Homo sapiens: one gene and its partner. The protein of the gene in region 2 interacts with the protein of the main gene of each other region in a pairwise test. Each region holds a gene or a part of one and is shown on either strand. Other genes may lie near its edges.

What was found.
Region 1: the proteins of TDRD7 (region 2) and GABPB1 interact in binary tests that used the Homo sapiens proteins (3 or more experiments, as listed by UniProt).

Annotation. Positions count from the first base shown.
Region 1 is NC_000015.10:50,302,906-50,310,204, reverse strand, and holds part of GABPB1 (GA-binding protein subunit beta-1 isoform beta 2), read left to right. Parts: intron 1-406; coding exon 407-514; intron 515-6,071; coding exon 6,072-6,239; intron 6,240-7,081; coding exon 7,082-7,276; intron 7,277-7,299.
Region 2 is NC_000009.12:97,491,935-97,496,763, reverse strand, and holds the end of TDRD7 (tudor domain-containing protein 7), read right to left. Parts: intron 1,102-4,829; coding exon 881-1,101; 3' UTR 639-880; downstream 1-638. UniProt on the Homo sapiens protein: Component of specific cytoplasmic RNA granules involved in post-transcriptional regulation of specific genes: probably acts by binding to specific mRNAs and regulating their translation.

The DNA of each region.
Region 1 (7,299 bases), on a different chromosome or scaffold from region 2:
AGGAGAATCACATGAACCCAGGAGGCGGAGGTTGCAGTGAGCCAACATCGTGCCACTGCACTCCAGCCTGGGTGACAGGCCGAGACTCTGTGTCAAGAAAAAAATAAATAAATAAAAATTTAGGCCAGCTTTTCTCTGCTACTTACCTCTTCTATCTTTTACCAGATGTATTTGGAGAATTTAAACTACTTTTATTCTAAGTAAAAACTTAATGAGAAAGGAAAATGGATTCTAAAATCCAAATATAAATTGCTTTTGTATGATCTGTAATTTTAAATTAACCATAGCACACTCTTTTGAAGGGATAATTGAGAACTGACTTATTAATAAAGACAGGAAGGGAAAATGTCATGTCATAGTGTATAAATGGAGATTTTGATGTTCAGTTCATCTATGTTTTGTTTAGATGTCCCTGGTAGATTTGGGAAAGAAGCTTTTAGAAGCGGCACGAGCAGGTCAAGATGATGAAGTTCGTATTTTGATGGCAAATGGAGCTCCCTTTACTACAGACTGGGTAAAGAATGATTTTAATATTGTGTGTTCTTTTTCCTTCTCATTTTTGAGTTTTTGCAGAGAAAAATGTAGTCAGTATTGTGTTTATAAGTGGTAAAAAGTTATTATTTTTGCAAATGTGTTTATTATTTTAGAATTATAACTGTCCTAAAAGAAGTGGTTTATATTATTTTCTTTGATATTGGACAACCTTATCCAAATATTTCATCCACAAAGAGTTTTTCTTTCAAACTGTGGAGTGCATTAATGTGGCATGAATATAAAAATGTATCTGCTTGGGATTTAATTTAAAGGCCTTATAAATAGCACAGGTAGAATTTATAATTCAGAAAGATACTGATAAAGATTGGAGTTAGTGTTAATAGTCACTCCTAAAAGAAAAACAAGTTTATGTTTCAATTATTACTTGTAAAACTGTTGCAGACATGACGAAAGAGGAAGAAAGGAATGGGAATGAGATCTTGACAACTATGGAAAGAAGGTAGTTGTGGGGAAGGCAAAAAAAAATAACTCTTTAATTCTGGGGGCAAATAAAAAAGTATTGTCTTGTGGATATGGAATGCTAGGAATCTGAATTAACCTGCCCATTGGTAACAACTAAAAATTCCAGATTTTTGATTTTGCCGTTTTTGCCTTTCTTTCTCTTTTTACATTTTTCATGAAAAAACAAAATTTTTTATTATAGAAAATTTCAAATATATATCAACGATATCCCTGTAATACCCTTTACCCAACTTCAAAAATTATCAAATCATGATGAATATTGTTTCCTCTATAACTCTGTCTACTGTATTATTTTTTGTTCTGTATTATTTTAAAGCAAATTCCAGGGACCATATCATTTTATCCATAAATGTTTCTTTAAAGAATAAATAAATCTTTAAAGAATAAAGACTTTTTGATGAAATATTTTAAAGAAAGTCTTCTTAAGTACACTGCTGAATTAGAAAGAAAGAGATTATCAACCTGAAAAACTAAGTGAAGGCAAGAACCCAGAGAAATTTTACCCTAAAGAACATTAGGTGAACTCACACTTGTCTGGTGGTTTTTCCACCTCACTGGCTTGGGGTACTAAAGCTAAAGACCTGAGAGTGTTCATGGAGAGAAGTCTGATAGGAGATCTTATCTCATAATTCTGGAATCCCAAAGAGCTGCACCTTCAGTGTAGGGATAAAGCAGGAATACCCTGTCCCTCCTCCTGTCTGCTCCTGCCCTTGCCCCTGTTGCCGTGATGCTGCAAAGATAATAAGCTGATGTGAACCAAGACATCAAATGGAGAGAGGAAAACAATCTGATGGTGAGAATTTGGAATCACAAGGCATCCTTTTTACACACTTGCAGCCTGAACTCATAAATACTTGTGTAGTCTAAAAAACTGTAAACTGAGAAATGAATTTGAAGTGATCTTTGGACTAGGGATTACCCCAGGCTCTTGACAGAAGCAAATGAATATCTGCTCTGGAGGAACCTGCCTTCATCCCAGGCTTCATATCCACAAATGAAATTCAAAGGAAAGTGAGCAGTCAGAAATAACTAAACACATGAACACATGCCAATTTGGACAGTAATCTGCTAAAACAACTGTCAACAGAAGCAGACCTATAAGGACTTGAGATAAAATTTTAGTAACAGATTAGAAACAGCTAAAGAGAAAATTAGTAAACTGAAAGGTATGAAAAAAAAAATGATCCAGACTATGTCACAGATAAAAATAGATAGAAAATGTAAAAGAGATGTTAGGAATCATGAAGGATCATGTGAGAAAGTCTAACATCTGATCATAGATCCACAAAAAGAGCAAAAATAGGGATGAAATAATTCAAAGAGGTAATTGCTGAGAATTTTCCAGAACTGATGAAAGATGGCAGCCCACAGATTTGAGTAGCCTAACAAATCTCCAGCAGGATCAATTTAAAAACTAATCTATATCTAGATATATCATAGTGATGCTGTAGTACCTCAAGACAAAAAGATCTTTTTTTTTTTTTTTGAGATGGAGTCTCACACTGTTGCCTGGGCTGGAGTGCAATGGTTCAGTCTCGGCTCACTGCAACCTCCGCCTGCCGGGTTCAAGTGATTCTCCTGCCTCAGCCTCCCAAGTAGCTGAGATTACAGGCACCCACCACCAAGCCCAGCTAATGTTTTGTATTTTTAGTAGAGATGGGGTTTCAATATGTTGGCCAGCTGGTCTTGAACTCCTGACCCCGTGATCAGCCCGCCTCGGCCTCCCAAAGACAGAAAGATCTTAAGAAGGATTAGTATCCATAATACATAAGGAATTCCCATGGGTTAGCAATAAAAAGACAAGGCAATAGAAGACTGACTGGATATGGTGCTTTACCAAGGAGAAAGTTTGATCAATAAACATGAAAAGATACTCAACTACATTAAAATTGGGGCAAATGCAAAGTAAAATCATGAAATACTATTATATATCCACCAGATTAGCAAAAACAGTTGAGCAGTACCAAGGCTTGGTGAGGAGATGGTGGGAACTCTCAAATATTTTTGGTGGAAGTATGGAATTGGTATAATCGTTATGGAAGACAGTTTGGCAGCACATAGTAAATTTGGAGATGTGCATAGTATATGATGTAGCAGTTGGGCTTCTAAGACTATTCCCGAGAGAAGACTTGTTCATGTGCCTGAAACATATACAAGACTACTGTATTTAGCAGCAACATTATTCATAATAACACAAAAACTGGAAACAATCTAAATGTTCATCAGTAGATTGGTTAAATTAATTGTGGTTTACTCATTCAATGGAATATTATAGAACACAGAAAATTAGTAAGCTATACTTACAGTTATTAACATGGTGAATCTCATGAATACAGTGTCAAGCAAAAGAAGGCAAGTCACAGAGAAATACATGCAGTATAATTCTGTTTAAATAAAACTCAAAACAGGCAAAACCAAAGTATATTTTTTAGGGATAAGTGATACAAAGAAAACTAAGTAATGCTTGTCACAAAATTCAAAATATTAGTTACCTCTGGGGCTGGGGGAGGGGCTTGTGATCAGGGAGTGGCATGTGGGAAGATTTTTTTTTTTTTTTTTTTGAGACAGAGTTTCGCTCTGTTGCCCAGGCTGGAGTGCAGTGGCATGATCTTGGCTCACTGAAGCCTCTGCCTCCCGGGTTCAAGTGATTCTCCTGCCTCAGGCACCGAAGTAGCTGGGATAACAGGCGCCCACCCTCACACCCAGCTAATTTTTTATTTTTAGTAGATGAGGTTTCACCATGTTGGCCAGGCTGGTCTCGAACTCCTGACCTCAGGCAATCCACCTGCCTTGGCCACCCAAAGTGTTGGGATTACAGGCGTGAGCCACTGCGCCTGGCCAGATTTTAAATTACTGGCAGTGTTTTATTTCTAGACTATGGTGTTGATTCACAGGTGTTTGCCTTAAACTACATATATTGGCTGAGCACAGTGGCTTACGCTTGTAATCCCAGCACTTTGGGAGACTGAGGTGGCAGATTATTTGAGGCCAGAAGTTCAAGACCAGCATGGGCAACATAGACCCCATCTCAAACAAAAAGAAAAAAATTAGTCAGGCATGGTGGCTCAGCCTGTAGTCCTAGCTACTCTGGAGGCTGAGATGGGAGGATTGCTTGAGCCTAGGAGTTAGAGGTTACAGTGAGCTACGATAGCTCCACTGCATTCTAGCCTGGGCGACAGAGCAAGAAGCTGACTCTAAAAAAATGAATAAAAAAAAACCCAAAAAGCTACAAAAACTACATGGCCAGGTGTGGTGGCTCATATCCATAATCCCAGCACTTCGGGAGGCTGAGGGAGGAGGATCGCTTGAGCTCAGAAGTTTGAAGGTACAGTGAGCTGTGATCACCCCATTGGACTCCAGCCTGAGTGACAGAGTGAGACCCTGTCTCAGAAAAAAACAAAAAACCCTGCATATATGTATATATATTTTGTGTCAATAACCAAGAAGGGAAAGTCTCAGAAGACAAAAATAAAAAAGTAGATCCTAATGTCAAACTGAGCAAAGCTCCTGGTTGCTAAATGGGCTGTTGAGATATTTTCATTAAATACTGAAATTTAAGAGTATAGAAAAGGCTAGTTAAAGAAAAATTGACAAAGCATGGAGAAAGAAAGGATTGTTTAAGGATCTTCTTTGATCTGCTGGGATGACCTTCTCTTAAAAATGTAAGGTTTAGCTGGGTTTGTTGGTGTGTGCCTGTAGTCCCAGCTACTCTGGAGGCTGAGGTGGACAGATTGCTTGAGCCCAGCAGTTCAAAGCTGTAGTGTGTGATAATTGTACCTATGAATATCCATTGCACCCCAGCCTGGGCAACACAGTGAGGCCCTGTCTCTAATTAAACAAACAACAATTAAACAAACAAACAAACAAAAAATATATCTATCTCTCTATCTATAGATAGATAGATAGAGAGATAGGACTAAGGACCTTTATACATATATCTCACTTAATCTCTTCATAACATAATAAACTGTTTATATGTGTAAATTTCCTTAGTCCAAATATCTTAGTTCTTTGGAATATCAAGTGATGTGGTAATCAGAGGGTTATAGGGATTTTCTGTGCCTTTAAATGCATGTGATAGAACTTAATCTTCCTTCCCTCACATTTTAGTACTCCCTCTGTGTATTGTGGATGTCAATTTAATGACTAGACCACATGGAACCAATTTCAGGAGAATTGGGCTCTGTTTTGGTTTTGTCCTGATTCAACTTTGGCAAATGCACCTAAGATTTTTCCTTTGAAAAAAATCCCTTTAAAAAGATCACTGAGATGTTTCAATACGTGAATTTTTTAAGACCTACAAAACAATTTTGATCCACTTAAAGTAAAAATGTACACTGTTACATTTATTTGAGATGAATTTTACAGACGAAGTTAACTTAGCAAGTTTTGTGTGATTGGTATGAGGAATACATTCTAATACACAGAAAAATTTCTCAAACTCTATCTCTGATTTCTTTTTTTTTTTTTTTTCTTTAGACCAAAATCTCGCTGTGTCACCCAGGCTGGAGTGCAGTGGCGCGATCTCGGCTCACTGCAACCTCTGCCTCCTGGGTTCAAGCGATTCTCCTGCCTTAGCCTCCTGAGTAGCTGGGATTACAGGCACATGCCACCACGCCTGGCTAATTTCTGTATTTTTAGTAGAGATGGGGTTTCACCATGTTGGCCAGGGTGGTCTTGAATTCCTGACCTCAAGTGATCCACCCGCCTTGGCTTCCCAAAGTGCTGGGATTACAGGCGTGAGCCACCACGTTCGGCCTCTATATCTTAATTTCTAATGAAATTAATTTTGTTCAGGCAGTTTATCTGATAAAAAATAATGAAGAAAGAAAGTTTGAATTAAAGGAAATACTGGATTTTCTTCTTCATTGAGAGTGTTTGGGAATTCTTCAAGATGTCTATGAAGAGGATGTGATAAGCATGAATCTAGGCATTTCTTTTGAGTTTTGAGTTGCTATGTAAACAGATAATGTAAAGAAAATCTGTTTACTATATAAACAGAAGTGTAGTAACAATAATGTAAATGTGGATTTTTTTTTTTTTCTGTGGTACAGCTGGGAACTTCTCCACTTCATCTAGCAGCACAGTATGGTCATTATTCCACCACAGAGGTACTGCTGCGAGCTGGTGTGAGCAGAGATGCCAGAACCAAAGTGGACCGAACACCATTACATATGGCAGCTTCTGAGGGCCATGCCAGCATAGTAGAGGTTTTACTTAAGGTATGTGTTCTCTTTTTGCACTTTGCTTTTAAAATACTTTACGGTTTTATAAGAAGGAGAGGGAACTAGTTTTTGTTAAATGCCTACTTAGTATTTTATCTATAGTATTTCATTTTTTGTGTGTATAAGCCCATTAAATGAAAATTGTCTTATAGCTTTCATTTCATGAGGGACAAAACTTCATTTAGGTATATTCTTAGTTAAATCAGCTAATTGATTTCTTGGACCTTGGTCTATCTTATGATGAGGGACTACAGCATTTTTTCTTTTTGTTTTTTTTTTTTTTTTGAGACAGAATCTCTGTCACCCAGGCTGCAGTGCAGTGGCACGATCTCAGCTCACTGCAACCTCCACCTCCTGGGTTCAAGTGATTCTCCTGCCTCAGCCTCCCGAGTAGCTGGGACTACAGGCGCCCACCACCATGCCCAGCTAATTTTTGTATTTTTAGTAGAGATGGGGTTTCACCATATTGGCTTGACTGGTCTCGAACTCCTGACCTTGTGATCCGCCTGCCTTGGGCTCCCAAAGTGCTGGGATTACAGGTGTGAGCCACCATGTCCGGCCCTTAATTTTTTGTATTGTAGAGATGGGGTTTTGCCATATTGCCCAGGCTAGTTTCAAACCCCTGAGCTCAGCTGATCCAACCGCCTCGGCCTCCCAAAGTGCTGGGATTACAGGCGTGAGCCACTGCACCTGGCCTGGAACATCTATTTAACATATACATATAAATAATTGACTACATTATTTGTTCTTGCTTTAAAGCACAGAACTAATAATTTCATATCAGGAATTTTTTATGTGATATTTCATATTTTAGTAAACTCTTTGAAATATTTTTGTAGCATGGTGCTGATGTCAATGCAAAGGACATGTTAAAGATGACAGCTCTCCATTGGGCCACAGAACACAATCATCAAGAGGTGGTGGAACTTTTAATCAAATATGGTGCTGATGTACACACGCAAAGTAAATTTTGTAAAACTGCATTTGATATTTCAATAGACAATGGAAATGAAGATTTAGCAGAGATATTACAGGTAACTTTTGGCTTTTAATTTAA
Region 2 (4,829 bases):
TGGTATATCACCGGAGATGACTAAGACCCGTCCCTCTTTCAGGGAGACCATGATCTAGCTGGGGTAATCGGTGCACAGACTAGTCATATACTATAAAACACAGTGACATATGGGCACCAAGAGAGGCATGATCAAAGTACGATGGAGTAGAAAGGGGTACCAGAGAAAGCTTCATGGTTGGCCCAGGAGGTCAGGCAGGACACTGACAAGCAAAAATGATGGGAGGAGAATGAGATGCAGGTTGACAGAATGGAATAAGCAGGGGTTCAGTGACCAAATAAAGGTACAGTGTGGCAGGGAGTGGTAGATAAGGAGGTTGGGTAGGAGGATTGTAGAAAGCCTGGGTCCTAGCTGGACTCTGTGGGCAATGAGAAGAGAAGCCACTCAAGATTTGGGTTGAGGGTCACGTTGGTTTGCCTGGGCTGCTCCTCTAGAAATGCTGATGTGTTAAGACTCAGGATAAGTCCTCACATGCTTTGGTGATCACTTGCTTTGAGATACACTACTACATCAGGGTAGAGTTAAGTCATAATAGTCTCAGCTTCACTGGAGAAGAACCCAGCTCTGCAAGGAAGACAACATGAAACGGAAGCTTTCATCTTAAGATCATGAAGCCTAGAAATTAAAAGGTAGTCAGCTTTTATATTGATAAACATTTTTATTCTAATATTATAGTAATAATTCAAGTACAATTTTCTTTGAAAAGTCAACTCTGTTAAAACAAAACTTGTTAAATATCTTTCATCAAACATAAGCATATTCTTTTCAATCCCCCACAGCAGTCAGAGCCATGTAGCAGAGTTAAGATTTTTTTTAAGCCTACTACATTTTGTTATTGCTAAAAAATCTGAATTAGTTGTCAAGGTTTCAGAGGCAGTCATTAATTAACTTTTGAAAGCTCTATCAGATACTCTGACATAAAATCATGAATCCAGGTATCGGTGTCTGGCAACGATGTGTCCACTAAGTAGACCACTACTTTCCGGTCCCAAGGGTTAGCATTTTCAATGACTGTCTGCACCAGTGCCACCAGAGGTTTCTTCTCCACATGATTTCGAAACACCATAGAAGCCTCCTCAGACCACTGGTTGCACTTCACTCCTAGGAGGAAGAGAGGAAGAAGAGGGAGCAGTGAGGAGTCAAAGGAGCTTTTCTTTGATCCATTATGATGGAAAATTATTTAGTCAATTCCAAAGTAACTTAAGCATCCCAGGTTAGACTTGCCTGAACTGAAAAACGGTTACTGAACAATCTTAAAACACTCCAGCTTATAGTTTTTCTACTCTGAATGGAGTCACTCTGGAAATCTTTAACTAAAAAACAAGTTTCATTTGAGACTTAACATTGTATTATAAAATGAGGTAATAATGACTACTGTACAACCCCCATAAAGTATATGCATATTTAAACTAATAACAGAATAAAATATCAATATCATATTAAATGACATTTCTTTCATTAAAAATTTTTTTTCTGATGGACCAAATATCATAAAAAAAAAGAATTATTGTATGATTCATTTACAGTATAGTTATTTAAAATTATACACAGCATCGTGGGAAAAGCACTGAATTGAAAGTCAACAGACTCAGTTACTATTCCCAGCTTTTCCTCTATCGGGTGGTGTGGTCTTAGGCAAATCAGCTGATCTCACCTATGATAAAAGAACCTGATTGGATCAGATCATGAGAAATCAAGTTAGAGAATTCTAAATTCGATTTTAAAACAAAACTGGGACAAGAAAGTACACATTGGCCGGGCACAGTGGCTCACACCTGTAATCCCAGCACTTTGGGAGGCCAAGGCGGGCAGGTATCTTGAGCTCAGGAGTTCGAGACCAGCCTGGGCAACATAGCCCAGCCCTGTCTCTACAAAAAATACAAAAATTAGCCGGGTGTAATGGCCTGTGCCTATAGTCCCAGCTACTCAGGAGGCTAAGGGAGGAGGATCGCTTGAGCCTGGGAGGTCAGGGCTGCAGTGAGCCGTGACTGCATCACTGTACTCCATCCAGCCTGGGTGACAAAGTGAGACCCTCTCGAAAAAAAAAAAAATATATATATATATATATACATATATATATACATATTTCAAGAAATACAATTAAGTCCACATATACTGGATTACATAAACTGTAAATTATGCCCCAAAGTAATTAAGATATGGAAATTTCAGACATAATTTTGGAAGACTTGCTATCTATATAGCAAATGGGCTAAATTCTTTGATTATTTATTTCCCACAAGAGAAGCCTAGAAATTTCATTTTATCTGCAGCAGCCCTGACAATCTTTGAGCCATGTTATTTAAGAAGAAAAAAGGTAACCCATTGGTAAGGTAAAAGATGATTCCACAGTATGGCTCCCTTTCTTCTAGGATTCAGAAAATTTTGTGCATGGCCATGGTGCACTGATGCAAAGAATGCCCAGGTCAAGGCCAGATGTAATGAAGCAACAACTCACTGGTGTTGTGGGAAGTCAGGAACCCCAAATGGAGGGACCGGCTGAAGCCATGGCAGAAGAACATAAATTGTGAAAATTTCATGGACATTTATTAGTTCCCCAAATTAATACTTTTATAATTTCTTACTCCTGTCTTTACTGCAATCTCTGAACATAAATTGTGAAGATTTCATGGACACTTATCACTTCCCCAATCAATACCCTTGTGATTTCCTATGCCTGTCTTTACTTTAATCTCTTAATCCCATCATCTTTGTAAGATGAGGAGGATGTATGTCACCTCAGGGACCCTGTGATGATTGCGTTAACTGCACAAATTGTTTGTAGAGCATGTGTGTTTGAACAATATGAAATCTGGGCACCTTGAAAAAAGAACAGGATAACAGCAATGTTCAGGGAACAAGAGAGATAACCTTAAACTCTGACTGCCAGTAAGCCGGGCGGAACAGAGCCATATTTCTCTTCTTTCAAAAGCAAATGGGAGAAATATCGCTGAATTCTTTTTCTCAGCAAGGAACATCCCTGAGAAAGAGAATGCGTCCCTGAGGGTAGGCCTCTGAAATGGCCGCTTCGGGTGCGGCCGTCTTTTATGGTCACTGCTGTAGGGATGAAATAAGCCCCAGTCTCCTGTAGTGCTCCCAGGCTTATTAGGACGAGGAAATTCCCACCTAATAAATTTTGGTCAGACCAGTTGTCTGCTCTCAAACCCTGTCTCCTGATAAGATGTTATCAATGACAACGTGTGCCCGAAACTTCATTAGCACTTTTAATTTCGCCCCGGTCCTGTGGTCCTGTGATCTCGCCCTGCCTCCATTTGCCTTGTGATATCTTATTACCTTGTGAAGCATGTGATCTCTGCGACCCACACCCTATTTGTACACTCTCTCCCCTTTTGAAAATCACTAATAGAAACTTGCTGATTTTACGGCTTAGGGGGCATCACGGAACTTGCGGACATGTGATGTCTCCCCCGGACACCCAGCTTTAAAATTTCTCTCTTTTGTACTCTGTCCCTTTATTTCTCAGACCGGCCGACACTTAGGGAAAATAGAAAAGAACCTACATGAAATATCGGGGGTGAATTTTACCCGATATCTGGCTGAAATTTCCCCCAATACACTGGGAACCTTGAAAGGGTGGGCATCCAGTGATCCCATTTGTGAGCGAGTAAGGGGTAATCCCAAGGTCCCTGGAGAATCCTTAAAGCATTCCAGTTTAAACACTCAGGGCATTCCCATGGGTTCCACTTAGATTCCACAGAGCTCCTTTACATCTAGAGATATTCCTAAATATGTCAAAGGGCTTGGCTAGGTGTGAACCAAGTCTACCAAAGTGATGACTCCAATGGCCATGTCACAACCAGTGACTTCCATGAAACTTCTAGTCTACCTCGCTTCTCTCTAGTGGATGCCTATGTTGGCCCAAGAGAGACATACTCTCCGCCACATATAGTTTAATAGTTCCAGTTCATATGTTTTCAATTAATTATAAAATGGAGGTCCTCCCTTCAAAATGGATAATGTGATACCCAGGAAGATTTTGTGACTTAGGAGCAAGTCAAAAGGAAGAAAGAAGGCTTGGCAGAGGTGAGCCTAGAAAAGGAACTCAGGACATGGATGGGACCCAACAGCAATGCTGTTTCAGATGTAAGTGTACAAAGAAACTTTCATGTATTTGGACTATGAGTTTTAGTTCAAAAGGCAATTTCATATTCACTTTTTCATCTGATCCACATATTAGTTCAGTCACATAGACAGGATAGGAATTTACTGGTAATTTTATAAATAATCATGGGGTAGGTTTAGAAGTTAAATGACTTGAATCTCAGCCTTTTGACTTCAAAAACCACACTTTTCATGGAGAAGGAAGTATACAGTGAAGAAAGGCACACACTGAAGAGGCAGAGTGCTGAGTTTAAGGCTGTGGTGTGGGATCTTGGACAAGATATTTAACTTCACTAAGCTGCTATTCCCTGATGTGTATAACAGTTATAGTAACAGTACCTAAACCTCCTAGCATGGGGAGAGTTCAATGAAGTAAAGCAGTTGGTAGAACTTCTGCCTACCGATCTGGCATGTAAAGAGCTTAGAAGTTGCTACTGCCTCCTAATAAGAAACAAAAAGCTGAACAAACAGAAAATCAACAACTACTCCTAGGTCCATCAGAGAAGGAAGGTCACAGGGCAATTCACTGTCCCCAAAACCAGAGAGACAGACAGGAAGATACTGAGAGTCAAAGCGTACTAGAGCAGAAACCAATGAGCAGAGGCCTGGAAGCCAGAGGAGGGAAACCTAAACTGTAACTGACAAATTGCTAGGGGTACATGTAAATAAGTCTGAGAGTTAAAAACTCCAGGGGAACCCAGTTATAG